Linked DNA regions of Homo sapiens. The protein of the gene in region 1 interacts with the protein of each later gene in a pairwise test. Each region holds a gene or a part of one and is shown in the gene's direction. Other genes may lie near its edges. The genes, in order: LAPTM5, SLC22A2, EPN1, USP13, KIR3DL3, EPN3 and TOM1L2.

What was found.
Region 2: the proteins of LAPTM5 (region 1) and SLC22A2 interact in a protein complementation assay, tested with the Homo sapiens proteins (one large-scale study listed by BioGRID).
Region 3: the proteins of LAPTM5 (region 1) and EPN1 interact in a two-hybrid assay, tested with the Homo sapiens proteins (one large-scale study listed by BioGRID and IntAct).
Region 4: the proteins of LAPTM5 (region 1) and USP13 interact in a two-hybrid assay, tested with the Homo sapiens proteins (one large-scale study listed by BioGRID and IntAct).
Region 5: the proteins of LAPTM5 (region 1) and KIR3DL3 interact in a two-hybrid assay, tested with the Homo sapiens proteins (one large-scale study listed by BioGRID).
Region 6: the proteins of LAPTM5 (region 1) and EPN3 interact in a two-hybrid assay, tested with the Homo sapiens proteins (one large-scale study listed by BioGRID and IntAct).
Region 7: the proteins of LAPTM5 (region 1) and TOM1L2 interact in a two-hybrid assay, tested with the Homo sapiens proteins (one large-scale study listed by BioGRID and IntAct).

What each region holds. Positions count from the first base shown.
Region 1 is NC_000001.11:30,737,022-30,740,833, reverse strand, and holds part of LAPTM5 (lysosomal-associated transmembrane protein 5), read left to right. Parts: intron 1-896; coding exon 897-1,025; intron 1,026-1,601; exon of another isoform or gene 1,602-1,678; intron 1,679-1,771; coding exon 1,772-1,894; intron 1,895-3,134; coding exon 3,135-3,230; intron 3,231-3,812. UniProt on the Homo sapiens protein: May have a special functional role during embryogenesis and in adult hematopoietic cells.
Region 2 is NC_000006.12:160,255,915-160,260,233, reverse strand, and holds the start of SLC22A2 (solute carrier family 22 member 2), read left to right. Parts: upstream 1-1,412; 5' UTR 1,413-1,476; coding exon 1,477-1,890; intron 1,891-3,516; coding exon 3,517-3,620; intron 3,621-4,319. UniProt on the Homo sapiens protein: Electrogenic voltage-dependent transporter that mediates the transport of a variety of organic cations such as endogenous bioactive amines, cationic drugs and xenobiotics. Functions as a Na(+)-independent, bidirectional uniporter.
Region 3 is NC_000019.10:55,695,726-55,699,537, forward strand, and holds part of EPN1 (epsin-1), read left to right. Parts: 3' UTR 1-3,812. UniProt on the Homo sapiens protein: Binds to membranes enriched in phosphatidylinositol 4,5-bisphosphate (PtdIns(4,5)P2). Modifies membrane curvature and facilitates the formation of clathrin-coated invaginations. Regulates receptor-mediated endocytosis.
Region 4 is NC_000003.12:179,781,728-179,785,539, forward strand, and holds part of USP13 (ubiquitin carboxyl-terminal hydrolase 13), read left to right. Parts: intron 1-11; coding exon 12-96; intron 97-2,320; coding exon 2,321-2,414; 3' UTR 2,415-3,812. UniProt on the Homo sapiens protein: Deubiquitinase that mediates deubiquitination of target proteins such as BECN1, MITF, SKP2 and USP10 and is involved in various processes such as autophagy, endoplasmic reticulum-associated degradation (ERAD), cell cycle progression or DNA damage response.
Region 5 is NC_000019.10:54,730,869-54,734,680, forward strand, and holds part of KIR3DL3 (killer cell immunoglobulin-like receptor 3DL3 precursor), read left to right. Parts: intron 1-3,812.
Region 6 is NC_000017.11:50,531,124-50,535,544, forward strand, and holds the start of EPN3 (epsin-3), read left to right. Parts: upstream 1-1,611; 5' UTR 1,612-1,862; intron 1,863-4,421.
Region 7 is NC_000017.11:17,878,395-17,882,206, reverse strand, and holds part of TOM1L2 (TOM1-like protein 2), read left to right. Parts: intron 1-2,463; coding exon 2,464-2,580; intron 2,581-3,812. UniProt on the Homo sapiens protein: Acts as a MYO6/Myosin VI adapter protein that targets myosin VI to endocytic structures. May also play a role in recruiting clathrin to endosomes. May regulate growth factor-induced mitogenic signaling.

The sequences.
Region 1 (3,812 bases):
GCCAGCACCCACTCCCCTTGCTAACACTCACTCTGTCTTGGAACCCATGCTGCCTGGGGAGGCCGTTTGCCTTGTGCAGGGTGGCTGTGGGTGCTTGTGCAGAAACTCAAAGGGTTCAGCTAGAGAAATGGAGAAATGGAGCAGGTGGTCCCTGAAGACTCTGAGATCAGTCAAGATTGTTCTGGTTGCCTCCTGAGTGATTTTAGACGACCACATGAGACACCAGGAAACCACTGTTGCAGTGATTTTGTCCCCAGCTGTGAGAGCATATGAATGAATACTGGTCATGGTGGTCACTTGCTTTCAATTGAAGAAGAGGGACTTCAGCCTCTTCCTGGCAGGGCCTCTTACTGTGACTTTGGACCCCTGGGAGTGGCTGGTGGAGGAAGGTCCAATTGTATGCGGGGCGTGGTGGGGAGTGGGGGGTGGGGGGGAGGGGCTCTCTGCTGCCTCCGGGCCTTCACTCATGTTGGTCTTTCTGCCTCCAGTGCCCCGCCCCTCCCTCCTGTTCACTCCTAGTCTCCTTCCCCGATCTAGCCCTGGTGTCCCCACCTCCAGCAAGTCCTCTCTGGTCCCCTCTCCTCTGTAAAAAGTGCACAAAGCCCTTCCTTGCTGGGTTCTTGTGAGCAAATTGAGTCAAATCCTGCTCTTTGAGCCCTGATAGATGGGGATGGTTCCCTTACGTCTCCTGGGACACCAAGACTCCTCTCATTCAGGGCCTGGGTCTTATCCACTCCCTGTCCCCAGAGTGTCACTCAGAGGGAGGTGACCTCAACTGAGGAGGGCAGGGAAGGTTTGGGAGAGGGTGGGAAGGGGATGCATGAGGATATCAGGCTGGGTGGCGGAGTGTTGGCTGCATGCAGGGGACACTTGACGGTGCTGGGCCTACCTTTCAGAACCGGGAGAAGTACCTGCTGCCCTTCCTGTCCCTGCAAATCATGGACTATCTCCTGTGCCTGCTCACCCTGCTGGGCTCCTACATTGAGCTGCCCGCCTACCTCAAGTTGGCCTCCCGGAGCCGTGCTGTGAGTACCCAGCCCCCACCTCTCACCGGACAGCAGAGCCCAGGTCTGGCATGGGAGATGGGAGGGGACCAGACACGGGCCCTGTGCTCAGGCTGGGGAGGGTAGGAGCCCTCTTCCTGGCTGGTGTCTTGACCCAGTCTCTGAGTCCCTCCACATTGCCCCAAGTTTCTTCCTCTGTGGAATGTACCTGCAATCACATCTCATCAGCCTGCCTTATGAGGGTTACATGAGGAACACACACATTGGGGGTGCAGCCCATGGTCAGCACTCAGTCAGTGCTGCTGGGAGTGAATTGACACCTGAGGAAAGGACATGTGCGCTTTTTAGCCCCCAGCCCCCAGTATTATTTCTTCTTTGGAACCAAGTTGAAGAAAGGAAGAGAAGGATGATTCATGCCAGTGAGCGCCCACTGTGGGGTGGCTTGAGGGCTGCTGCCAGTCAAGGACACAGTCTCCCAAACCTGCTTTTCTCACTCTCCCCAACTGTTGTCCTTGAAGAGACCGGGGGGCTACATCATGGAAGGGCCCTGGCCCGGGAGTCTGGAGACCTTGGTTCTAGTCTTGGGTCTGCCACCAGCTCTTGGTATGAACATCTGTGTGTTCATGTCTCTCTGTGCACAGGGGACGAGAGTCACTGATGTCTGTAGCTGAGACGGTCTCTCAAGTGAGGGCCTACTATGTGCCGCTCAGTAACTGGGACTTTAATTGCTGCTCCTCATTCCTCCTCCTTGTATTTGTCCTCCCCAGAGCTCCTCCAAGTTCCCCCTGATGACGCTGCAGCTGCTGGACTTCTGCCTGAGCATCCTGACCCTCTGCAGCTCCTACATGGAAGTGCCCACCTATCTCAACTTCAAGTCCATGAACCACATGGTGAGTCTGGGGCAGGGAACCATGCCCATTTGCTGGCTGTGTGGCCTTGAACAGGTTACTTCACGTCTCTGTGTGTCTGTGGTTTAGGCCAGGTTCCCTGGAGTTGGAGCTTGGGAGGAAGATTCTTGTGCTGGTGATTTATTGAGGGAGCCCTCTCAGGAAGAAACTTGTCAGGAGTGAGGAAGGCAGGTTCGAGAAAAGGAGGAAGCCAAGCAAAGAAGCAAAGATGTGGCTGTAGGAGCAGCCCTGCATGATCCCAGAGAGGGCTTTGGCATGTGAATTGCAACACAGACATAATATCAGTTTTTATTGTTGTCTAATGAATTATCTCTAAGCATCATGGCTTAAAGCAATAAACATTTATTATTTCACACAGCTTCTGAGGATCAGGAGCTTGGGAGTGGCTTAGCTGGGTTCTTCTGACTCAGGGACTCTGGTGGGGCTGCACCAGAGATGGTACCTGGGGCTGTGGACAACTGAGGGCTTGATTAGATCTGAAGGATGAACTCCTGGTGGCTCACTCACAGGGCGTGGGCTCTTTGCCTAATTCCTCATCCTGTGGACTTGTAGTAGTGCTGCTTGAGTGCTCTCCTGACATGGCTGCTGGCTTCCCCTGCGGGAGTGATGTAAGAGATAAGCAAGGAGGAAAGGCAGTGTCTTTTAAGACTTCTATCACTTCTGCCACATTCTGTTAGTTAGAAGTGCGTTGCTAAGTCCAGCCCACACTCAAGGGGAGAGGAAATAAACACCACCTTTAGAAGGGAGGCGTCTCAAAGAATGTGTGGTAATATTTGCAAATGACCACAGAGGCAGTCTCACCTAGGGCGAGTTCCCCTGCATCAGTCATTGGTTTCAAGCTGCCCCTAGGGGAGGGAATGTAACCTCCCAGGTATTAGTGGATTAGGTGGTCCCTGTCAGCCAAAATGATCTTGTAGAGAAGAGCATAGGTGTGGCCCATGGGCAGCTGACACCTGCCAGCTGGGGATGGGCCGGTGCGCCAGCCTGGGAAGCAGATCTGGAGATAGTAGCCACTTGGCTTTTCTTGGTTTGCCCGTCAGTGGGATGGGGCTGAAGGTAGCACCTGCTTCCTAAGGCTGCTGTGGCGGTCGACCAAGGTGACGGCTGTGCCACGCTGTGCTCGTGTGTGTGTGGAGGGTGGGATCATTATTCCCGGATGTGTGGGTGCTGTTGGAATTCCTTATGTCCAGAGACATTGATGTGGCCCCCAAATCTGTTGCAGAATTACCTCCCCAGCCAGGAGGATATGCCTCATAACCAGTTCATCAAGATGATGATCATCTTTTCCATCGCCTTCATCACTGTCCTTATCTTCAAGGTGAGTGGATCCCTGCCCTGCGGCTCTGGGAGGGGTGGTGAGGCTGTGCTGGGCCCAGGCCTGCCCATGCCAAGCTGTTAGAAGGCAGGGACATGTGTCCTCCATGCCTCCTCTCCTGCTTTTAGCTCCTTTCTCTTGCTTTCCCATGCCAGCTCCTCTGACTTTACTTGGGATCCTCCGAGACAGCCCATTTAGGGCATGTGAATCCGTAAAGGCCACCTGCGTTCAGATGTCTAATTCCAGCTGTCTGGAATTAGATTTGGACTGGCCTGCGTTTGAATCCAAGCCCCACTGTCACTAGCTGCGTGGTTGGTCTTCAGCAAGTCACTTCTCTCTGGGCCTCAGGGGCAGGAGTCTTGTTTTGCCTGTGTTACAGTTTTATGTAATTCAGGCATCAAAATGTACCTGAGATTATGTTAATAGAGGTTTGGTGATGAGAAGGCAGGAGGGGAATGGTCTCATTCTTCTCTGGGGTGGTCAGGCCCAGAGGATAGGGTCCAGCTTCAGGTCCCAGGTCTGAGTGATGGTGAAGCACTGGAGTGTGTTCACAGCAGTACAACCAGCAACGTGAAGAGACAAGAA
Region 2 (4,319 bases), on another chromosome or scaffold:
ACAAATTTCCTGTTTGTCTTGCATTTAGATGCAACAACATCATCCTAAAGAGATGCCCCTGATGTGTGAGAGCAGAAAGGGGTGATCCCTTTCTTCCTTATCCTAAGGCTCACGGCCAACACCCCTATAACAAAAGACAGGTTAACAAGAGAAAAGCATGACAAATTTATTTGATCACGTTTTACATGACACAGGAGCCTTCATTCAGAATGAAGACCCACAGATACAGGGAAAACTGGATGGCAGTATAGAACTGTAGTTGGACAAAAAGGGCAGCAGCCCATGTTCGCAGGCTGAGGGGAAAACCCAGCAAGGCCTGTCTGTTCAGATCCGTCTTGGCCCCTCTGTGCAGCACTCCTTCCTCCAGGCACCGGGGACAAGACTCCTCTGGAATGCGGGTCTGGATTTCTTTACGGCCCACTGTTACACAGAAAGGCAGCGGGGAAGTTACAGTGGTATTTCTAGGCTTTCTGGCTGGCTTTGGGGAGAAAAGAGTCTGGTTTCCACGAGCTGCTTTGAGGAAGAAGGATTCTCAGTTCTATGGCTTGCCCCGGGGGAGAATGATGGGTGAGAGAAGAGACAGGAGGGCAGGAGAAGGTCAGAGAGAGAGACTTTGCTTCTGAGGCCTCCACCTTGGGGCATGGATTTCTGAGCCCCAACAGACCTTGACAGAAAAATCTAGGACACAAAGATAGTGGCTTGGACACACCTGCCTGCATTTACACTTGACCTGTCTGCGACGTAAACACTTTCCTCTTTCCCTCCAGATGGGTTAAGGGGAAGGACACTTCAGGGTTGAAACGCAGGAATACCAGATTGGAGCAAACACTTTTTAAAAGCAGAGTTATAAAATCTGGACAACATCAAAACAAGCAGCCCCAGCATGCATCCCGACGGCTCTTGTTGTTGGTTGGAGAATGAGCCCAGCAGTCAGGCTTGCAACCCACTTCGAATCTGGACCAGGGTTCTGACACGGATCCTGGTTCACATCACGCTGGGCCTTGTGGCCAAACACGTGTGTTTTCTCCATAGGGCCTTGAAGAAAAGCTGGCGGTGCGCATGAGATAGGAGTATATTAAGTTCCTGGCTGCTCGGGGCACTACGGGAAGATTACTGGGCTGTGATATGGGCCAGCACTCAGATTCCCTGCGGTGGGACACAGAGGGCGGGTTGTTTGTGCTGCTGGCGTGGAGCACCGACAAGCCTGTGGAGAACCAGTTATAATAAACACGACAGGCATCCTGGGAGTGAGCTCAGGGCATTTGGGAAGTGCAGAAGGACATGCACCCCCGCTGGAGGGGTGCACCTTTGAAGTCAGCTGGACCAAGGAAAGGCCCTGCCCTGAAGGCTGGTCACTTGCAGAGGTAAACTCCCCTCTTTGACTTCTGGCCAGGGTTTGTGCTGAGCTGGCTGCAGCCGCTCTCAGCCTCGCTCCGGGCACGTCGGGCAGCCTCGGGCCCTCCTGCCTGCAGGATCATGCCCACCACCGTGGACGATGTCCTGGAGCATGGAGGGGAGTTTCACTTTTTCCAGAAGCAAATGTTTTTCCTCTTGGCTCTGCTCTCGGCTACCTTCGCGCCCATCTACGTGGGCATCGTCTTCCTGGGCTTCACCCCTGACCACCGCTGCCGGAGCCCCGGAGTGGCCGAGCTGAGTCTGCGCTGCGGCTGGAGTCCTGCAGAGGAACTGAACTACACGGTGCCGGGCCCAGGACCTGCGGGCGAAGCCTCCCCAAGACAGTGTAGGCGCTACGAGGTGGACTGGAACCAGAGCACCTTCGACTGCGTGGACCCCCTGGCCAGCCTGGACACCAACAGGAGCCGCCTGCCACTGGGCCCCTGCCGGGACGGCTGGGTGTACGAGACGCCTGGCTCGTCCATCGTCACCGAGGTAAGAGAGTGAGCTCAGGGCTCAGATGGAGAAGCAAATGGTGGAGATTTTCTCAAGGAAGCAAGCAGGGAAGGCCCGGCTCTTATAAACCCTGCCTGGACATCTCTTTGGCCTGCATGTATCTTACAAAATCCTAGTTTCCAAATGAGAACATGCAGCTTCTAATTTGTCTGGAGAATAACTGGATTAGTTAAAACGTCCTCAGATGCTGACAATAATGATTCTAGTTTGTGCATGTCCCAGCAATAAGGAACAGGCCAAAGCATATTAGGACTCCTGGAAATGTTGCCAAGATAGGGATATTGTGGATCCTCCTCTTTTTCTGGAAGCCTTACCTCCCCCTCTATTCCTCCATCCCGCAGATGCCCACACACACCTGAAAGCCCGTGGAACTCAACTGAACTGTGCCTGACTGTGTGATAGGATGTGCTTTTCTCTCGATACCTATTTTTTCTCTTTAATTTCCTCAAAGTGTTCATATAAAATCATTTGGGGCTGGAGATCATGCTATGGCACTATTATTTTGTTAAAAACTACAGATGACATCAAAAGCTATTTGTGAAGCCTGATTCCAATAAATATAATAGAAAAAAAGACAAAAAATGGAGCTTGCTTTTATTGAAAGCAAAGCAAAATAGGGGAATTAAGTTACCTGAAAATACTGAGAGAGCCAGTTGCCTAGTTTAATTTAAAATGACTGCTTGGACAATGGGAAGATATTCTGTGTGAACAGATGGGTAGGTAGAGTCTAATTTGAAGGGTCTAAAGTGGTCAGATATTTACAGGAAATGTGGCAGCTCATGGGCTTCACACCACAAACTCTCCGAGGCTCTCTCACATGGCCAATCTCATTGCTTCCTACAGAGATGAGGAAACTGAGGCCCCAAGCAGAGAAGGTTTTTCCCCAGGCCACACAGTGAATAACTTAGCAGGGTTAGCCCTAAAAGATGGGTCTCCTGACCTGGTCCAGCACCTGCTCCACCCGACCACCTCCTCTTATTCCAAATAAGAGCAAATGCAGCAGCCTTCAGCAGTCACTCCTAATCCCCTTTTATTAAACAGACAGCAGGGAGATGCTAAATGGCCCAACCTCCTGGTGCCTGCATTGTATCACGTCCACACACCTATCTGCATGTGCATTGAAATTAGAAAGGAAAAAATAAATTTGTCTATAAGTAATTACCCAGTTTCAGCTGATTTAGCCAATGCTGTAGTTTTAGCTTCATGACAAATTGCCAGATGGAAGGGCAAGCCTTTTGGTTATGTAAAGAAAACTGAGGCTGGGCACAGTGGCTCACGCCTATAATGCCAGCATTTTGGGAGGCTGAGGTGTGAGGATCACATGAGCCCAGGAGGTCGAGGCTGCAGTGAGCCATGATCACCACTGTACTCCAGCCTGGGTGACAGAGCAAGACCCTGTCTCACAAAAAAAAAAAAAAAAGAGAGAGAGAGAGAAGAAGAAGAAAATTGGCATGATCAAGAAACAATGGCTTATTGCCACTTAACTATACAGTTCAATTCAAGGAATATTTAATGAGTACCCTAGCTGAGTTATGTCCAACAGGATTCTAACAGGATTTCATTTCCTTTCTCTCCCAACTTGGAACACTTCTCCCCTGCTGGCAGTTTAACCTGGTATGTGCCAACTCCTGGATGTTGGACCTATTCCAGTCATCAGTGAATGTAGGATTCTTTATTGGCTCTATGAGTATCGGCTACATAGCAGACAGGTAGGTTGAATCACCTGTGGTGGAATTTAAACAATCCCAAAGGTTTGGAGAACACTTGGATGCACCTGCCCCTGCTTGAATCCCATCCTTTCCCAAGCACACAGACCACAATCTCCTGGCCTTCATGCTGGTGTTTTTACAATCTTAAATTTCTTCTGCTGCTTGGATAACCATGACCAATGTCTTTATTTTCAAATTCTCTGGGGTCATAGACAGATATTTCAACATTACACAGCAAATCTTCCATGGGGGCTATGCAGAAGCTTCAAGTCGGAAGGGAGAGTAACAGATGATCTCATCCCTTTTGTAATTCCCAATTCATTTTTTGGCCTCATCACCATCCACCTGGCCATCAGCCTTCAGGGCCTCTGAGCTCAATCCTATCCTCTGCTTGTCTCGCATATGCTGGGAGCCCCCAGCACCAGGCCCAATGTAGAATCTCCCTAATACCCGTGGGATTGCAAGAGTCCTGAATTGGGTTCCTGGGGCCATATATGACCATATATGTGGAAGCCATAACTTAAAGAAAGGGAAACAGGGTCTGCCTACAACACGAGGGGTAAATGTCCACCTCTGCAATATCATTGTCCCTGGAGAGATGACGAGAGGCCTCTCTGATGAGTCTTGTCTTCAGCAAGCTAGTAGTCAGTGTTTGTATGGATCAAGCTATTGCTATGTCTCTTACTTATCCAGCATTTT
Region 3 (3,812 bases), on another chromosome or scaffold:
TGGCAACTTTGGGAATAAATGGCAATTCCCACGGGCTTGGCACTCCCAGATTCCCATCTGTGATTTCGTGTGTCCCCCAGAGCCCCTTCATCCAGGGACCCAGGGCTCAGGTCACATCTCTTTCTCGGGGGTGGCTGGCAACCAGCCCCTCTGTCTCAGAAGCCCTGATTTCCCTGACCCTCCCAGGTCAAGGGATGGCTGGGTTGAGGGTGGACTGTGCGAGGCCTGGCGGAGCTGTAGCCCACACAGGTCCAGGTGGTCGGGAGGCCACTCATGGCCAGACGCTTCCGGTGCAGGAGGCCTTGCTCTTGTGTTGAGGGGACACCAGGATGAGGTCAGAGAGTGCACTGGGGTTCAGGGAGGAGAAGAATCCTGAGAGATGGCACATGTGCAACACAGGTCACCGTCGCCATCGCCCGGGCCCACCGCAAGCATCACTAATCCATCCCTGCACTCCTGGAAAGCCGGGTCAGCCTCTGCCGGCTGAGCTGAGTGGACCACCAGGCGCCTCCTGGTTGTCCTCTGTGTGCTGTTTTCCTCTGTGTGCTCTTGTCCTGGGCTGGACCACACCTGGTGAGACTATCCGGGAGAATCCTCGGGCCGCCTTGTGAGGGGGGTGTTGCTGTCATCTCCAGGGCTAGGTGACAGCTTGTTGCAGGCCCCACAGCCAGGGCCTCAGGGATGGGGATCTGGCCATGTCTGTTTTAAGCCGAACAGGCTGTTCTTCCATGTGGAGTCTCCCTCCGTGATCCCCTGGGGTCAAGTCCTGACGGCTGGGTTCGCTCCCTCAGTGACTCCGACAGCTCTTGTCTCAGAGGTGCTGGGGTGAAGGCTGTGTGGGGCCAGGCCCCTGGGGTCAGACTTCTTGCCCCTTCTGCCCGGGGGACGCTCTGGGCTCAGGGTGGGGCCAGACAGCTACATCACAGGGACACTTGTTATGGGTCGGGGTCCAGGGAGCACCCAGCCAGTGGAGTGTTGGAGGCCACTGAGAGGGACATGACTGCGGTGTCCGAGCAGCGTCGTGGCCACCCTGTGTGCCCACTCCCTGGTGGACAGACCTACGTCACCTGGGGATTGCAGAGCAAAAGGAGTGCTGTTGGGGTGATGTGAGGTTGGGGTTCTGTTTCTTGCTGTGAATTGGGTCATGACCTGTGTCGGAGCGTTCTCTGGCCTCCACTTGCCCCTGCAGACCAGGGTGTCTGGAGGGTTGTCGGGGGCTTGATGGAGGAATTGCTGACCACACCATGCAGGAAGAGGTGGGTCCCAGGGACACAGGAACTTTGGGGTCAGCCGGTTCCAGATTCAGTTGCAGAGGAGCATCCCCCTTGCTTAGCCAGGGAGGGGAAGCCCTCTTCTCACACCCGGCCTGGGTATGTTGTGGGAGAGTCATTTCCCAGGAGGAAATGGGGACTGTTACCGGGGGAGGGGGTGCTGTCCCCAGGCAGCAGCAAGCGTCCCTTACGCTTGGGCTGTCCGAGACCCTGCTGCTCTAGGCGGTTGTGATGGGGGAGCCCCACAGGGCACAGAGAGCCAGCTGAAGGCGGCAGCTCTGGGTGGGATCACATGGAAAGGGGAGGCGAGCCGAGCCTCCCTCTTGCCAATCTTGGTCTCCCCACAGGGTCATAGCTCCTGGGCCCCTCACTTGTCAGACCCTCCATTCACCAAATTAAGGATAAGTTTCACGATTTCGCACTGCGGAGCCTGCACTCCCTTTCTCTTCAAAAAAGCTGAGGACGAAGATAAAATGATACAGTTGGATTAGTCCAGTGGAGGGGTTAAAGGTGTGAGGCTTTAATTCTCCCCACCATTTCCTCATTTGGCAAAACAGAGAAGACAGGATTGAAAAACAAGACAAAAACCCAGAGGCTTGCACATAAATTTGGGGCTTAACTACAGCATCTTCGGCATCTTCTTTTCCCTACAGTGCGAATTACAAAGTAGCACCACAGATCTCGTGTCTCCTACTTTATTCCTCTTTCTAGAATATTCCAGCCACCAAAGTGCTCAGCAGGAGCTGCTGTGTAGGAGTCCCCCATGAGGCCCAAGCACCTGAGCTTAGTGACATACACGGTTGAACGCTGGGAGAATGCTGGGAGCCTGCTGTTGTCCCCGATTGAGGGCTCCCCCCACTGTGTGTGTATCACTCTTTCTACAGCAGATGTGTCTCTCTCCCCACAGTGGGATGGCGAGCTTGTTAAATGGCCGTGAGGAAGACTTTATTCAGGACCATCGAGACAGGTACAGGTACCATCAGTGGATGGAAAATCACTAAGAGCAAACCTCAGGGGTCCGGGGGTTTTCGGCTAAACCCACCTAGCAGGATTCTTGCTGAAGGCAGGCCAGGGTGATCAGAGGTCACCTGGGGATGGTGGAGGCTGAAGAAGCCTATCAGATGTGAGGGTGGCGGGGGTTGGGGGGGATGGCGGCGGGGTTCATTTGCTGAAAGGATTTTACAAGGGCATGCACGGATGGGCCTAGGAGGAGGTTCAGATCCCTCAGGTTTGGCTAAGCAAGAGTCATGGTGGTGCTCCCGGCTGGCTCTCAGGAGCAGATGTGCTTCTGACCCGACGTCTTCCCCCAGAGAGGGCTGAAGTGGAAAAAACCCCAGAATTTCTCCCTGGGACAGGTGAAGCGATGGGGCGTGGGACATTCCTGGGTCTCGACTCTGTTCAGGGCCTAGGGGTTGGGTGGGGAAGGCACTTGAGGGAACCTTCCTGGAGCCCGTAGGAGCTTCATCCGAGCTCCTGGGTCACCCCGCCCACCAGAGTCCAGGCCCACCAGAGTCCCCTGCCACCTGTGCTCACCCTAGCCTTACCCCTCGCTCTACTCCCGCCCTCGCCCTATCCTCGCTCCTCGCCCTACGCTTGCCCCTCGCTCTGGAGCTGCGATGCCAGCCTCAGGGCTTTCAGTCCTGCCTTGATCTTTTTTTATACTGAAACTCAATTTTACACACACAAACCCACTCCCAGCCAGCCTCTGCCTTTTGCCTTTTCCTCATGTTCTCATTGAATAGGAAGAAATGCCCTTTTTTTTCCCCCCTAGAAGGAGTCTTGCTCTGTTGCCAGGCTGGAGTGCAGTGGCACGATCTCGGCTCACCGCAACCTCCACCTCCCGGGTTCAAGCGATTCTCCTGCCTCAGCCTCTCGAGTAGCTGGGATTACAGGTGCCCACCACCACGCCCAGCTAATTTTTTTTTGTATTTTTAGTACAGACGGGGTTTCACCATGTTAGGATGGTCTCGATCTCCTGACCTCGTGATCCGCCTGCCTCGGCCTCCCAAAGTGCTGGGATTACAGGCGTGAGCCACTGTAGCGGCCCCCACCCCATTTCATTTTTTATTTTTTTATTATACTTTAAGTTCTAGGGTACCTATGCACAACGCGCAGGTTTGTTACATATATATACATGTGCCATGTTGGTGTGCTGCACGCATTAACTCGTCATTTACATTAGGTATATCTCCTAATGCCTTCCCTCCCGCCTCCCCCAGGCCCTTAGTTTGTGCTGCTCTGCGTTGGTTTTCTGCGTGTGCTAAAAGGGGAGGGAGAGTTTCTGTGCCCATTCCCAGGCACCTTCTTGCAGCCGCAGGCATCTCCCCCACACGTGCTTCTAGCTTCCCGGGTGTGGCGTGAGCCATTGCGTCCGGCCAGAAATGTTTTATTTCTTGAGAACTTGTCTGTCTCTGTGATGACTGTGGGTTGTCCAGCTCATCCCTCAAGCGCCATCCTGCCAGGCCCTTCACTGTGGTGAGAAACCGGCCTACTCACATCACAGGTGCCCCTGGAGTTTCTCAAACTGCAGCCCAAGGATTG
Region 4 (3,812 bases), on another chromosome or scaffold:
CTCTTTCACAGCATATGAGCTATTTGCATTCATCAGTCACATGGGAACATCCACAATGAGTGGTCATTACATTTGCCATATCAAAAAGGAAGGAAGGTGAGTCATTTTTAGAAGGTAAATGTTAGCTGTGATTTATTGAGTACCTACTATATGCCAGGCACTCTCCTAGGTACATTGTATGTTATCTTATTTGGTTCTCACATTGGTCTTGTAAAGGGTATACTGTTAACGCCCTTTTGCACATCAAGACACCGAGACTCAGGGAGGCTGAATAGCTTGACCTTAGCTAGTAAGTAGCTGTGTGAGAGCTGATATTCAAAGCCACTTTCAACTATCATACCAAGGTGACCTCCCAAAATAAAGATGCATCCTGCAGCAGAATGTATGCTGTAATTGGAACCTCCCTAGGATTGCCATATTTAGCCAACAAAAGGAAACAAGACAGGAAAAACCAGGATGCCCTATTAAATTTGAATTTCAGATAAATAATGAATAATTTTTTAGTATAAATAAATTTCAAATATTCTATGTCCCAAATATTATATGGGGCATGCTTCTACTGAAATTTCTTATTGCTTACCTGATACTCAGATGTAACTGGGTAACCTGTGTTTTATCTGGCAGCTCTAAACCTTCAGTGCTTTGCCTTACTACAGCCTTGCAGTTGGCTTCTCAGCCTTCTTAAGTAGAATTGTTAAGTGTGTAGTGAACCGGAAATGAGACAGTTGTGGAATGAAAGGCTGCTGCTTTCTTCAGAACCTTCTCCCTGGGCTGGATCCCTACAGGACCTACTGGTGCCCTTCCTGCAACTCCAAACTGAGTAGCCTGTGGGTTGGCACTTCTGCTTGAGGGCAGTGCTCAGGCCATGTGGATGCTGGAGAAATGCCTGAGGGTGGCCTCTTGCTCCATGGCTCCCACTGCAGGAGTGGCCATTTCCCACCTGGACTCCATTGTGTTCTTCTGTGGTGTGTCTTTTTAGTTTTGTCTTCTTAACTTGGTAAAATAGTTGAGCACAGGAATTTATCTCTTTTTTTTGAGATGGAGTTTCACTCTTATTGCCCAGGCTGGAGTGCAATGGCACAATCTCAGCTCATTACAACCTCCGCCTCCCAAATTCAAGCAATTCTCCTGCCTCAGTCTCCCAAGTAGCTGGGATTACAGGCATGTGCTATCATGACTGGCTAGTTTTGTATTTTTAGTAGAGATGGGGTTTCACTATGTTGGTCAGGCTGGTCCCAAACTCCTGACCTCAAGTGATCCACCCGCCTTGGCCTCCCAAAGTGCTGAGATTACAGGTGTGAGTCACCGCACCCGGCTGGGACTTAATCTTTGTGGTGAATTGTTTTTATTACAAACACGATAGCGCTTTAAAAAACACTTTATGGAATGAAGTCAAAGAAAATAAAATAAAAATGCTTTTTAAAAGAAAAATAGCTTAATTATAATTTTAAAAGCAATAAAATTCATAGTAAATAATTTATAAATATAAAAATATACAAAGAATATGTACCCTGGAAGCCTAACAATAACCATTGTCTACATTTTGATATACTTTTCTTTGTTTTATTGTCTCACTGGAAGAAAGTATATATATGTCTATATGCACACATACTACATATAAATAAACACACGTATTTACAACTTAACTAAAAGCTTAAAGTATGTGCAGAGTGCATACAATTTTTTAACCAGTAATTTCCCATTTCATATTATATCATGGTTATTTTCTCACTTTGCCAAATATTCTTTGAAGAAATTTTAATAGTTCTATAATAGTTCACTGCATGGATTTTTTTAAAATTCTGGTTTTAAGCTAGTTTTATACTAAGACTGAAATAAGCATTGTTGTACATAATTCTTTGACTCAATTTCTCAGGCTATCTATGGATTTCTATAAAGGGAGTTATGGGATCAAAGGTTAAAATGTTTGGAGGTTCCTGATACATTTTAGTAACTACTTTTTGATGGAGCTTAAGAATCAAAAAGCAGTTGTAGCTGGGTATGATGGCATGTGCCTGTGTTCCCAGCTACTCCAGAGGCTGAAGCGAGAGGATCCCTTGAGCCCAGGAGTTCGAAGCTTCAGATTGTGCTACCTTACTCCAGCCTGGGGAATAGAATGAGGCCTTGTCTCTTAAAAAAAAAAAAAAAAAGCAGTTGTGATTCCCTACCAGCATTCTGTCCCTTTTTATACAACGAACTTGAGTATAGTACCTTAAAACATCATGGTTAAGTGTTGTGCGCCATATGATTTAGTGACTTCTTTGTGTAAAGTTTCCTGGAACTGACTTAAATCCATCAAATGCTTCTGTCTTATTTTCAGATGGGTGATTTACAATGACCACAAAGTTTGTGCCTCAGAAAGGCCCCCTAAAGACCTGGGCTACATGTACTTTTACCGCAGGATACCAAGCTAAACCTCAAATATAAAAATTGGCGAAAAGAAGCCATACGCCTTTTTAATTTGCCAAAAAAAAAAAGAAGAAGAAGAAGTTGAAACAACTAGACATGAAGGAATATATGGGGTATTTATCGTTTATTTAAAGAGCACGATCAGTTGACACCTTCTGAAATAGAACTGAGAAGAAATTTCTATTAGTGATGATACACTATTATATTGTAGATAGTTTTTATAAATGTTCAAAAAGATGATGATATTTAAAAACAAAAAAAGTATTCATATTGCTGGTGGAGGATCTGCCATCAGCACATCAAAAATGGGGATGTGCCCCCAGCCCTCTATTTTGCTTTGGGGGTCAGTGATAGTGGCCTCTGGAGAAACCAAATAATGTGGCCAGTGGTGTGGCCTTACCCACAACAAATGAAAAGCCCACTTGTGTTTCATATAGAAAATCAGCAGTTGGGTGGGGCTTTATTTGTGACATAATTTTTTTCATGACATACAATAATTTCTGATGTATCCATGTAGATATTATGCTCTGTCCATAATAGAGCCTCTGCAATGAAAGATATTTTTAATTTGTCACATTAAAATTCATAATACGATTGTGTGAATGTGTGTGAGACTGACTGAGAGTGTGAGACTTTTACTAGAAAAGTGAGTCCACTAGAAAATCTGTGACAAGTTGGTTTTTAAAGTCTGAACAGTTGATATTAAGCATATCTGAAAAAAGCAAGTAAATATTTTAACAAAACTATGACTCAGGAACCTTCGAGAAGATTAGTTCCCCACTTAGATTTTTAAGGAGTAAAAAGGGCTGAGTTATGCCTTTAAGTGCTGTCAAGAATTCACTTGGGTTTGGGACATTTGCTGGTGTAATGCTAGATGCCCACAGCAGCATAATATTGTACTTTGTCAAAGGTAGGTAAATTCTCTGTTTCTCAGCAGCCCTTTCCCCAAAAGGTATGGTGTTTATTTTTAGTAAAAATAGCTAATCTCTTTTTACCATCTCACATGATAACTCTTTGGAGTCATGTCAAGTGCCCCAAATTTGTCTGTGATTTTCCCATCTCTGAGCTCTTTATCTGCCTCCGTTTCCTTGTTTTTCTGGGGCCAGAGTCTCATCTCTGCCTTTTTTTGGTGTATCACCTTCTGACTTGCCTTCATTGCTTGTCTGATGTGACCAACAGTGTGATCTTGGACACACTAAGGATTTTAGATGCAAAGAAACTTTATACAACATTATGAAAGACTATCCTTTCCATTTTGGTTATTTCAGCATTTTAGTTGCAACCTGGGATTAGATTAGAGTTTCCAACGTGATGAAAAGTGGAATGATAGCATTCTATAATTTCCATAATTTTCCTACTGGTCCGTACCAAATTCTAGAGTCTCTGGAGTTGCTATTTCAGAG
Region 5 (3,812 bases), on another chromosome or scaffold:
GTGAACACTGCTGGAACAGTCATGGGAGTGCAGATGTCACTTCGATACGCTGATGTCCTTTCCTTTGGGTTTACACCCAGTCATGGAATTGCTAGATCCTCTGGAAGTGTCTTTTTACATTTTGTTTTATGGTTTTTGTTTTTGTTTTTGTTTTTTTTAGACTGTTTCACTCTTGTTGCCCAGGCTGGAGTGCAGTGGCGCCATCTGGGCTCACTGCAACCTCCACCTCCAGGATTCAAGAGATTCCCCAGCCTCAGCCTCCCAAGTAGCTGGGTTACTGGCTCCCACCACCACACTCGGCTAATTTTTATATTTTTAGTAGAGACAGAGTTTCGCTATATTGGCCAGGCTGCTCTTCAACTCCTGACCTCAAGTGACCTACCCACCTCGGCCTCCCAATGTGCTGGGATTACAGGCATGAACCACTGTGCCCGACCTCATTTTATTTTTTGAGGAACTTCCATACTCTTCTCCTCTGTAATGGCTGTACTAATTTACATTCGTATCAGCAGTGTACCAGATGCAACCCTGGTTGACTCAGCAGAGCAAGAGACGTGCAGTAAGAGAGAATTTAGCTTATTTATGCACACGACACTTCCACTCACTCACTCGTTCAGCCAATGCCCCATGCTCAGGCTGTGCAGTGTGGAATCTTTTCCTATTGTTGCCATAACAAATTTCCACAAGCTTCGTGGATGAAAACATGTTTTTCTTAATTATCTCACAGTGCTGTAACTCAGAAGTATGAACTGCATTTCACTGGGCTGATATCAAAGGGACAGTAAGGCTGGATTTCTTTTTAAGGTTCCAAGCAAGAATCTGCTCCTTAACGTTTCCCAGCTCCTAGAGGCTCCCACGTTCCTGGGCCCCTGGTCCCCTTCCTCCTTCCTCCTTCCTCAAAGCCCACAAAGGCTGGTCACGTCTCACATGGCATCATTCAGACTCTTCTTCTTTACCCACACCTTTTTCTCTGAATCCTGCTCTGCCTTCTTCCTCATCTTTTAAGGACTTTGGGATTCTATTGGGGTCACCAAGATAATCCATCTCAATCTCCCTAAAATCATCCAGCGTACCCTCTTTTTAAGTTCAGCTGATTAGCAACCGTAATGCCATCTGCAATCTTCATTCCTCCTTTCCTGTAAAATAACATATTCACAAGCTATGGAGGCTAAGACAGGGACATTTTGGGGGTGGGGCAGCATTCTCCTGCCTTCCACAAATGGTAAACAGGATGCATTTGGCCTCTGCTCTTGGGACGCTGATATTGCAGATGGGTAAATGCGAGGGCAGAGAATGAATGCACAAGGGTACCAATAAATGAATGATCCATTGGGAAGCATCTGTGCACCAAATCTGGGGTTTTTTGTGTGTGTGTGTGTTTTTTGTTTTCTTTTTTTTTTTGAGTAGAGTCTCTCTCTGTTCCACAGGCTGGAGTGCAGTAGCACAATCTCAGCTCATTGCAACCTCTGCCTCCTGGGTTCATGCAATTCTCCTGCCTCAGCCTACCGAGTAGCTGGGATTACAGCTGTGCGCCACCACACTCGGCTAATTTTTTTGGTATATTTTTTTAGTAGAAATGAGGTTTCACCATGTTGTGCAGGCTGTCTCAAACTCCCAATCTCAAGTGATCCCACCGCCTTAGCGTCCCTAAGTGCAAAGATTACAGGCGAGAGCTACTGCGCCCAGCCAGGATTTAAAATAAGTAATAGATAATGCTGAGTATATAATTTCAGGTGACAGAGAAGGTCTCACTGATCAGATAATATTTGTGACCTTAATGGAAAAAATGGATTCAACCCTTGGAAGATTGGCGGAAGGATTTTCCACACTGAGCTCTCAGCCGTGAAGGCACAAAGGTGGAAACATTCTTAGTTCAAGGAAGAGGCTCTGCCTCAAATGCTGGGAATGAGATGGGGAGAATGACAAGACAACTGTAGAGAGATGGAGAGCACACTGGGTACACAGGAAACTAAGGAGGAACAAGGAGCATGTTTTTGATACTCACAGCCCTTGGATTCAACTCAGAGCTAACTAGGAATCCCTACCTGATTAACAGTGACCGACATGAAAATAAGGGAGGCCCAGGTGCGTAACTGGAATCTAGGAGACCGTGGAAAAGGCAATTCCCGCCCCACTGGTGAAACGTAGGGTTGATTTACACACTAAATGAATGAAAGATGGATATAAGCTATGCTTGTGAGGTAGAATCATTTGCAGGGAGGGCTTGCTGGGTTTGATTTTTCCTAGTAGTTTAATCCTTGTTTCATTAATTTCTTTCTGAGATGTGTTTTTTTTCTACATCTAAATCAATACCTGGCAGAGGAGCGATAGACACATGAGGGGTGGTGCAAATGAAGGGACCTAGTATAATATAATATACAAGACTGTGGATGGGGGCTCACACCTGTAACCCAACACTTTGGGAGGCCAAGGCGGGTAGATCACTTAAGGGTAGGAGTTTGAGACCAGCCTGGCCAACATGGTGAAACCCCGTCTGTACTAAAAATACAAAAATTAGCCTGGTGCATTGGCACCTGCCTGTAATCCCAGCGACTGGGGAGGCTGAAGCAGAAGAATGGCTTCAACCCTGGAGGCAGAGGTTGAACTGAGATCGCATCACTGCACTCCAGCCTGACACAGGGGGACTCTGTCTCAAAAAATAAAAATAAAACATACATAATTATGACACACAGAAATTACAAAGGCAACTGGATACCAACCATCATTTTTCTATTTCTCTGTGTTTAATTCTTTGACCCTTTATCTTATCCATTAAACAATCAGGTTAAACCTCTTCCTTATTTGGCTTTCTGTGAGCTTGGGATCATATGGAAAATGTGAAAGCCTCCTGAACCCACCAGCACAGGTCCTGGAATAGAGAACGTGCTCTGTTCATGGCATAAAACTTGCCCCTTCACCCAAATCCCCCAATTCATCTCTACTTCCAATCACCTATGGAGATACAGATAGATCATGGGGAGGTAAACACTAATACTCTTTGGAGTGAGCTCAGATCTTGGACTCAGAGACCAGTGCCAGCACTAGCCCCTGGTCACATTTCGTACTAACTCACAGAAGGACAGGCTGTATTGAAACAATAAACGACGGAGAGGGCGGTCCTTCCCCGTGCTTCTCGGGTGGAATAGCAGCCTAATATATGTCTCAGCAGATCACAAAAAGTAGCATGTTGTTCCTGGGCTACATCATTATTTCATGGCTGTTTGATTTAAGTCAGTTCTACTTCACTTTTTTTATCTTGATTTCATTTTTTCTTTCTTTTCTTGGAGAATGTAATTTTTTTGAGTCAAGAGGGTTGTGGTGGTAGAAACTGTAAAGCACATTCGCTGTGTATCAATCCCAATCCAGTCTTCCCAGAGAAGATTCTAAACACCTCCTGGAATGCACCTGGGCCTATACCAATTCCTATCACTCACCGTCACTCCAGGGAGACAGAACACACAGAGAACACATTACACAGGCAGGTTCATTACTAACAGATAAGCAGCGAGTGACAACAGAAACCTACATTTCAATGTGAGCCAGTCCCTCAAGGCTCAGAAAAGCTGCTCGAGACATGTGGAGTCACCCCATATGCAGTGTATCTGGGGGAAATCAAAAAGCAGCCCAGCCTGGGTTTTGTACCCTGGAGCCACAGGAAGCACTCAGCTAAAGCACTGCATGACGTCCTCCTCCAGGAAGAACAGGAAGACAGCCCAGGCTGTTCTGGGATGTTCCTCCTGATCTCAGGACGTTGCTGTCTTAGTCCATTTTTGTTGCTCTAAAGGAACACTTGAGCCTGGGTAACTTCTAAA
Region 6 (4,421 bases), on another chromosome or scaffold:
CCTGGGTGACAGAGTGAGATCCTGTCAAAAAAAAAAAAAATCTGCAAAACCAAAAATTATTTCACAAGAACTTTGAACTTGTGAAATTCTTTCACAAACAACTGGTTTCTTTCCCCTCTCCAGCTATTCTCTCACAGCATAGTTCATATATAGGTGCTTCCCACAGAGTAAACTCTGCCTGTGATGTTGTCCCGTTCTTCCAGGTCCGTGGGCTGCTGGACACCCTGGTGACTGACCTGATGGTCCTGGCTGATGAGCTCAGCCCCATAAAGAATGTCGAGGAGGCTTTGCGCCTCTGCAGGTGACTCTCGGGCCCAAGCAACCTTCTGGAAAACGGGTTAATAAATAAATCAATAAAGAACCTTCAAGTTTCTACTACTTCCGTGTGCCTCTGTGTCTTGCATGATGGATCTTGGCTAGGTCAGCTCCTGATCCAGGTCCTCCCATGTTCCACCTGCCCTCAGATCCCCTCCTGCCAGCTGCCAGAGCCCTCCTGCAGGAGGACAGACAGACATAGCTGGGGAAGTGATGTGTGGGATGCCAAGCAGAGGAGCAGATTGGTAGCAAGACAAGGAGTCAGGTGACAGGACAGTGTGTCACCTCTGGTAGTCCCTGCCTCTGGCTTCCTTGGCCCACACTTTCAGGGTCGTGCTTCCTGGAGCCAGGTCTTCCCGAAGTGTCATCACCAAGTATGACAAAGTGTGAGATGAGGAGTAGAACTAGACCCATGGGACCTGGCTCCCTGCCATCTCCCCTCTTCAGCTGGGTCCCAGGGCCCCAATTCAGTCCCTGAAGATCATGCTCACCACACCTCTTCAGCTCTAGAGGCCACATCACCTTGTTATTTCGGGGTCTAGTCTGCCTTATCCCCCTCCTCATCTCAAACTATCTGGCCTTGAGCCATCTTTCTGCCTTAAAAACAGCTGCTGATCTTCATGCTACCTCCCTTGCTCAGGGGAACATGAAACAGGCTAGAAATGGCTCTCAGAAAAAAAGGTATTGTCAGCTCAAACTCAGGCCCCTCATTGTCTTCTGTCAGTCATAACCATTTGGGGCTGGGCTCCCTGTGTGAAGAGCACTCCAGGCTCCCAGAGTTTGAAGAACAACTTTGGTTTTTGGGTGGGTGGGCATCCTTAAGTGGGCCTCAGGCATCCTCCAGCTGAGATGCAGGAGGGGGAGGATGGACAGAAGGATCTGACTCCGTGTGGGAAAGGCAGGGAGGGGGCTGTGCTGGAGTCCTGATGCTCTCCTCCCCAAGAAGACGAGAAGACGGGGGCTCCACCAAAGAGCCAGCCCCAGGGAATGTCCCTGCCCTCTCCTTTAATGTCCTCCCGGCCCAGAGGAGGAAGGGGAGGGGTGTGGTGGGGGTGTTGGAGCCCCCCTCCTTTCCTGTTGAAGAGGCAGGGGAAGGGTTAACTCAAAGCAGAGGGGATCAGGTCGCCAGCACTGGCTCCAGATGTGCACTTCCTGGGGGCGGCCAACAGGCAGGCCCCCCACCTCTCAATGCACCACTTGCCTGGCCAGCAGGAAGGGGTTAACCTGCCCTGCACTTCCTCCTGTGTCCTGTTACTGCTGAGGCAGACCTGCCGGGCCAGCTGAGCAACTTTCCTCGGAGTGCTGCCTGGCGCTGGCTAGGAGGCAAACGCACGCGGGAAGAGCTGCTACCCATTCCAGGGACCCTGCCGCTGCCCCTCTGAGGGGTCTGCACCTCCTGGGAGCAGGTGGGTCTCTGGGACGAGGGTCCATGGTGGATGGCTCTGGAGACGCTCCCGAGGCTGTGCCGTCCCGCTGCTGCACAGGTCGGAGGGTCACCGCAGAGGCTACTCGGGCTGGGGCTGGGGCCGAGGGAGCCCGCACTGGAGGTAAGCTTCCTCCCTGGCCCCCTCCCTGGCAGTGGCGGCATGGAAGGCGGGGGTTGGTGGGGAGCAAACAGTGGTTCTGGGGCTTAGTCTCTTTTCCAGGTGCGAGGGAGAAGGCTGAGCTGTAGAGGACCTAAAGGCTTCTTTCCTGCCACCCCTCCCTCCCTGCCGCCCCCAAAAAGGGACTCAGGGCCCCCTCCCCAACCATCCTGGGACTTAGCATCTTTGGTGGCATCTTAGCATCTTTGGTGGCATTCCCCACAGACTCCTTCTGCACATCTCTGCTGTTTCCTCTTCTTCAGCCCCTCATGCACACCTCTAGCCTCAGGGCAGTCCCCCCTCCCCCATCTTCTGTGCTCCCGGGATGCAGCTATTACAGTGGCCAGAAGCTTAGAGTTCAAGCTCACCCCCTGTCCCTTACAGCATCAAGAAGGGCACTGTCATTCCCCACTGCTCAGGCTGGATCTGACTTGGAGGCAGGGGCTGGAGCCCACCTTAGCAGAGGACGGGAAGAGGGTGTGGGCTGGGCTGGTGGGTGCACAGACTTTACGCAAACTCATGCACGTGTGACTGGACAGATCTGGGTTCTCTCCATCTCTCCGAAACCCTTGCTGGGGATGAGCGATCTGCATTTTTCGGTCCTGACTTTTGGGAAACTCTCCAGATCCCCCCATCCTGCAGGCCCTGAGAAGAGCAGCCCCTCCCTACTGCGCAGTTCTCCTTGGGACCCTGTATGCAGGAGAGAGCTGATACTCCGTGCCCCGTGGCCCATCCCACCGCCTGCTGGCCCTGCTCCCATCCCCTCAGCTTCCTCCCTCCTCTGCCCTCTCGTCATCTCTGAATTCTCAGGCCCTGCCCTCTCTGTGCCCTTCCCTCCACCTGACAGGGTCTGGCTCAAGGTCACTGCAGTAATTCCATACCCAGCTGCCCAGGGCTGCTGCTGCTACCGCCACCGCCTTATCGGCCGCTGGGTTTCTGTTACACTCCCTTTTATTTCTGGGCATATCGTGTTCGATAAAACCCTTTGCTTGTAACACTGCTGGCAGCGCTCCCAGCTGCTCCCTCCCGCGTTCCCGCGTTCCTTCCTTTCCTCCTCCCTTCTCTGCGCTTGGGCAGGCTTCTTCCTTTCCTCCTCCCTTCTCTGCGCTTGGGCAGGCTTCTTCCTTTCCTCCTCCCTTCTCTGTGCTTGGGCAGCCTCACCTTGTCCCCTCAAACTCCAGAGAAGGAAAATCAAGGTGCCTCCCCATGTTTCTGGCCCCGCCCTTCCCCCCAGCCCCTGCAGGGGTGTGCAGAGAATGCCCACCTTCTGTGAGAAAGGTCCAGGCAGGGCCGCTGGGCCCACACCGAGAGTCCCCTCCCAGAGGCTGGTGCCCCCACACAGGCCAGGCCGGAGGGCCAGGGCAGCCAGGTCCAGGTAGGGCTCTGGTGCAGTCACAGTGCCCGACTGGTTCTGCTAGTTCCAGCGGCCAGCCGGTAGGGGCGTGTGCTGGGCGGGCTTTGGTGCACATTATTTCCCATCTTGACTCTGCCACCCCCAGCCACGGGTTGGGGAGGTGAAGGCAGGTCTGAGTCACTAGCAAGGGGGAGGGCAGGAGTTAAACAAGTTGTGGCCGTGGCATTCCCACAGAAGGCCCACGACCCGCTGGAAGGAAAGAGATAGCAGACAAAAGGTAGGCTGCGCTGTGGGCCAGGCACTCTCCACCTCGCCCACTCCCACGGTATCTTATTCTCTGGGCCCCCAACAAAACCTGCCAAGGCATGTTTTCAAAGCGTGGGGCTGCTTTGAACTGAGCCCAGCACTGGCGGGGCTGGGGTGGAAGGAGCGTGGAATCGGGTGCGAGAGGACAGTCTCCTTCAGATTCCTGCTTCTGGCAGCCTGGGGACCAGTTGGGGCACGGGCTGGGATGGAGGGTGGAGCCGAAAGGTGTTTGGTGGGTGGGGGACAGTTCACGGGTGAAGTGGAGGCTCTGCAGGCCCAGACAGTGTGTGTGTGCATGCACACACCAGTGCTAGTGTGGGAGGAATGGTGGTGGTCAGGGAATTCCTCTTTTGGTTTCTGAAAGGGCCTTTGGGAGGACCTTGGGCCTGGAGTTGTATTCAGCAGATAGCCTGGACCTGTGGCTACTGGGGGGAATTGGGCTGGCCCAGCTCTTCTCCCTGCTGGGGTACCAGAGGTCCACTATGTGTCCAGCGTTTTGGGGCTTTGGAGAACCCAGACTGTTCCTACTCTCAGGGAGCTTCCATTCTAGCTGAGAAGGTGGGACTGAGACAGTAAAGCAATCCGATGAAATAATGACCAAACTGGGTAACACTGACAATAAGAATTGGATTAGTCTTCTGGAGTCCTGGATGGTAGTCCAGGCTCTGCCACTTACGTGCCATATGATGCAGGCAGGTCCCATCCCCTCTCTGGCCTCAACACTTCCATGTGTACGTGGGGGTGGCATGCAGGAGTGTTGGCAGTGGCCAGAACTCTGAGGGGCAGTCTTCCTCAAACGATACTTGCTCTCTTGCCTTCTGGCCCAGGTCATAGCATTTCTTCTGAGCCGCCCTCCCCTGACT
Region 7 (3,812 bases), on another chromosome or scaffold:
CTATCCCATAAAAAAAGTCAGCCATCAGAGGCCTGTGACCTGATCAGGGAGGCCCTCCTGAAGCACAAGAAGCCTGCTTTTATCCCAAACACTCCCCACCCTCCCGGGTTACTTCCTGATAAACTAATGCAGTTTTAACCCCACACTGGATTTTTTAGATGAATTGGGGAGTGCTCTTTAGAAGAATCCATAGAACTTCAATTAGTTACAATTTGAGAATTGGTCAGACTTGGGGGAAAAAAAAACTCTCCAATGTTTATATTTACCAAATCCTTATTTACTATTTGCGACAATGTCATGACTGTGGAACCTCACTGAAGCAGAGGGGTCAAGCAATGTGTGTGTAGGGATAGCAATGTGTGTGTAGGGATGGCAGTGTTGTGTCGTGTTCCTCACACTTCCCTGCTAGCTCTGAGCAGGGAGTACGGTGAGAGCAGGAGGAGTGAACTTGAAGCCCCCAGGGCCTGGGTGTGAGCCCCCAGCTCTGCTGCTCACTCTAGGCTTCAGTCAGGACATTTAACCCCGGTCTCCCATCAGTAGAACAAGTGATTTGTTACCCCACCAGGCAGCTGTGGGCTTGACAGGCAGATGGAAGAGGTCCTCATTGTGGCTACCCAAGTGCTGTGGGAAAGAAGGTCTCTGGCTTTTGGCCCTGCTTCTATGGGCAGAACTGTGCCCTTCCTGCTCTGAGGGAAGGCAGAAAATGTTTGAAGTTGGACAGTTACTGAGCCCCTTCACCGACTCAAAGTGTGGGAGGTGCTTGGGAAGGCCCTCCTAGTAGCCAGAAGATGCTGGGTCTGCAGGGTCTGGGCATAGGTAGCACAGGAGCCCTGAGGCATGTTGCCCCTTGGAGAGCAGAATGCAAGCAGAGGTAGGCAGGTCAGCACCCAGCCTGGCCAAGAGGACCCAGGGCTTCAGAGTCTACTGGGTGGCTGCCCATAGCCTTCCTGGGCCTTCCTAGCCAGAAACCTCTTCTCTCTACCAAGACTTTGAAGAAAACCCCTGGATCATCCACCAGGCAGAGCCAGAGGCTAACAAGAGCCTCTCAGGACCCAGACCATCTCCCTGGTAGACCATTGATTGAGGTCTCCTGTCCCTGTCTCTGTGCTGAGGGTATAAAGCTCAACCCAGCTGAGTTCCTGCCCTAAGAAGCTAAAGGTCTGCTGAGAGAGCCCACCCACACAGGAGAGGCTGCTACAGCTGCAATAGTGGAAGATGGCACAGCGAGTGGGAACCTGAGGAGGCGGGAGTGGTTGCTTCTACCTCAGGATGGGGTGGGGAGAGTCAGAAAAGGCTTCACTGGGGAGAGAAGTTGTCACTTAAGCTGGGTCACAGTGCAGGAAGAATGACATTACAGTTCCTCTCTCTGGACCTTTGAGCAGGAACAAGGGCCGTATGTGTGTAGTAGAGAGCATACCTGCATGCCAGGCGCCGCATGGGAAACTCACAGCAGCCTGGTGAGGTTAGTGCCACCTTTCTGTAGGTGAGGAAACGAAGGCTCAGAGAGGCTCAGGTCCGGCTCTGGATGTTGCTGCTGAGTCTTCCAGGGCTCCCTCCAGTGTCCTGTGCAGTTCTTGACCTCTGTCCAGCGTTATTTGGTCTCTTGTCACTGAGTGATGGGACCAGTAGCCACCTCTATGCAGATTCTTCTATGATATTTCACTGTGGGCAAGGAAGGTCCCTGTGGTTTCTGCAGATCCTTCGAGGGGGTTGAGGGAGTGAAGGGGCAGATCTGAGGCACAGGACTGAGGGCAAGGGGAGAAAGTGTATGATGTCTCTGTTGCTGGAGAGGAGCCTTGGGCCTTGGCCCAGGTCCAGGCTTTGGGATCGCTGATGGGCAACTTGGGTATTTTTCAAGGGGCTGTGTTACCATGTAGGGAGCTGGGTGGGGAAGGTGTCTCCCCTGTCGTCTTCCCCTGTTCTCTCATTCTTGCCGCAGCAGAAAAGTGCTATTGACACTGCCCAGCCTCTCAGAGGGATCCTAGTGTTTAGATGTAAAACTCCTAGGAGCAGAGTCTATAACTCAGAGCTTTGTAGAATAGGATCTCAGCTCTGAAGGGATCTCAGAGCTCCTGCCCTCCTGCACTTGGATTTTAAAGAGCAGGAACGGAAGCCCTGAGAGGTTCAGCTTCTACTCAAGTTCCCGTGGTGGGAGAGCCGAGACGGAGAGCCAGCTTGGTGCACTCCTGACACGGAGCCCTTCACTACGTGGTACTGCTTTCGTGTCACAGTCAGAGAGGCACAACAGACTGTTGGTGGCAGGGCCCATTCAGCTCTCTCAGAGCTGACAGGCAGGCCAGAGGGAGATGAGAAGGTGGCCTCTGCAGTGTGCACTCAGAAAGGCAACCCAGATCTCCCAGTGAGAAGGATTGTCACTAGACTAGGAGCAAGCTGATTCTGATATTGCAAGTGCAGGCTGACTGACCTTTCCTTCCTGCTTTCCTTCCTCGTGGCCCCCACCAGATTGCCAGGCTGCGGAGTGAACTGGACGTCGTTCGAGGAAACACAAAAGTCATGTCTGAGATGTTAACAGAAATGGTCCCTGGACAGGAGGATTCATCTGATCTGGAGTTGCTGCAGGTGAGTCATCTTTCAGAAGCACTTGGCCTGTGGTGGCAGCTCTTCCACCGTACACTGTTGGAGGATCCCACCCGGGGACACAGCGGCAAGGCGGGACAGGTCCAGTGGCCCTGTTGTTGATAGTCCATGTGAGCACACATGCAGCCTCACGTTGCCTACGGACAGGCAGAGGCCAGTACCACTGTCTGTCTTTTTTATTTTCCTTAATAACATTTTTTTCCTGATTATAAAATGCCAGTTGTAGAATACATGCTCACAGAAAGAAAAAGAAAGCACAGAAAAGAAAATAACTTTCTTTGACCCAAGCATCTGTAAATAACCACTGTAGGTGCTTTGATGTATTTTCTTTCTGACTTTTTTGTAGGTTTATTTTAAATGTAGTTGAGCTTGTACTATTTCTGTATTTTGGTCCCTCAACATCACATTTTGCAGGAGGGCCTGTTCAACCTTGACTGTGCACAGGAGCCCTTGTAGTGGCACCTCACCCCCAAGGTGTCCTGAGACTGAGATGAAGTGTGATGCTCCCATGCTTTTCCCTAACACTGAGGATTCCCAGGCATATTGTGGTTTGCCATTGCAAACTGGCCTCCCCGCCTCTGGACAGCCCATGGATCTGGGGGCATGGCAGAATGGGGTCCAGGAGTGGGCGGCCTGCAGTCTACCCCTGAAACCAGGGTCAAGGCCCCCACCTCAGGCCTGTTTCCCAGGGCAGCCAGGTCCAGAGCCAGTGCCCAGATCTCCACCACACCCAGCCTCAGATGACCCTGGCATTTGCAGAAAATGTCAGTGGTACTGCCCTTAGAAGCAGTGACCTTCTGGAGGGTGGAAGAAGGATGCTGTGAACTGCAAGGCCCCACACACTTTTCAATGGGAGGCAAGATGCTTGAGGGAACAGGTCAGGAGCCAGACTGATTTAGCAACCTGGCATGAGTTTCTCATGATACACCTGCTGCTGCTGCTGATACTGCCATTTGTGTCTGGCCCTCCGTTGTCAGTCTTGGTCCCCAAGTGCTACACCTTCTACCCTGCTGCTGGCACATGCTTGCCGCCTGTGAAGGCCCTGTCCTGGTCCCAAGTTGCTGCTTATTGTGCCCCCTTCCTACTCCAAAGCCATCGGCTCTTATGGGGGTGAGGGTGGGTGGAGACCTGTTCCAGGCCTGACACAAAACACAGTCCTAGGGGCACAGAGGTGCATGAGCTGTGGTCCCTGGAGCTTGCAGCTTTTTGCAGGA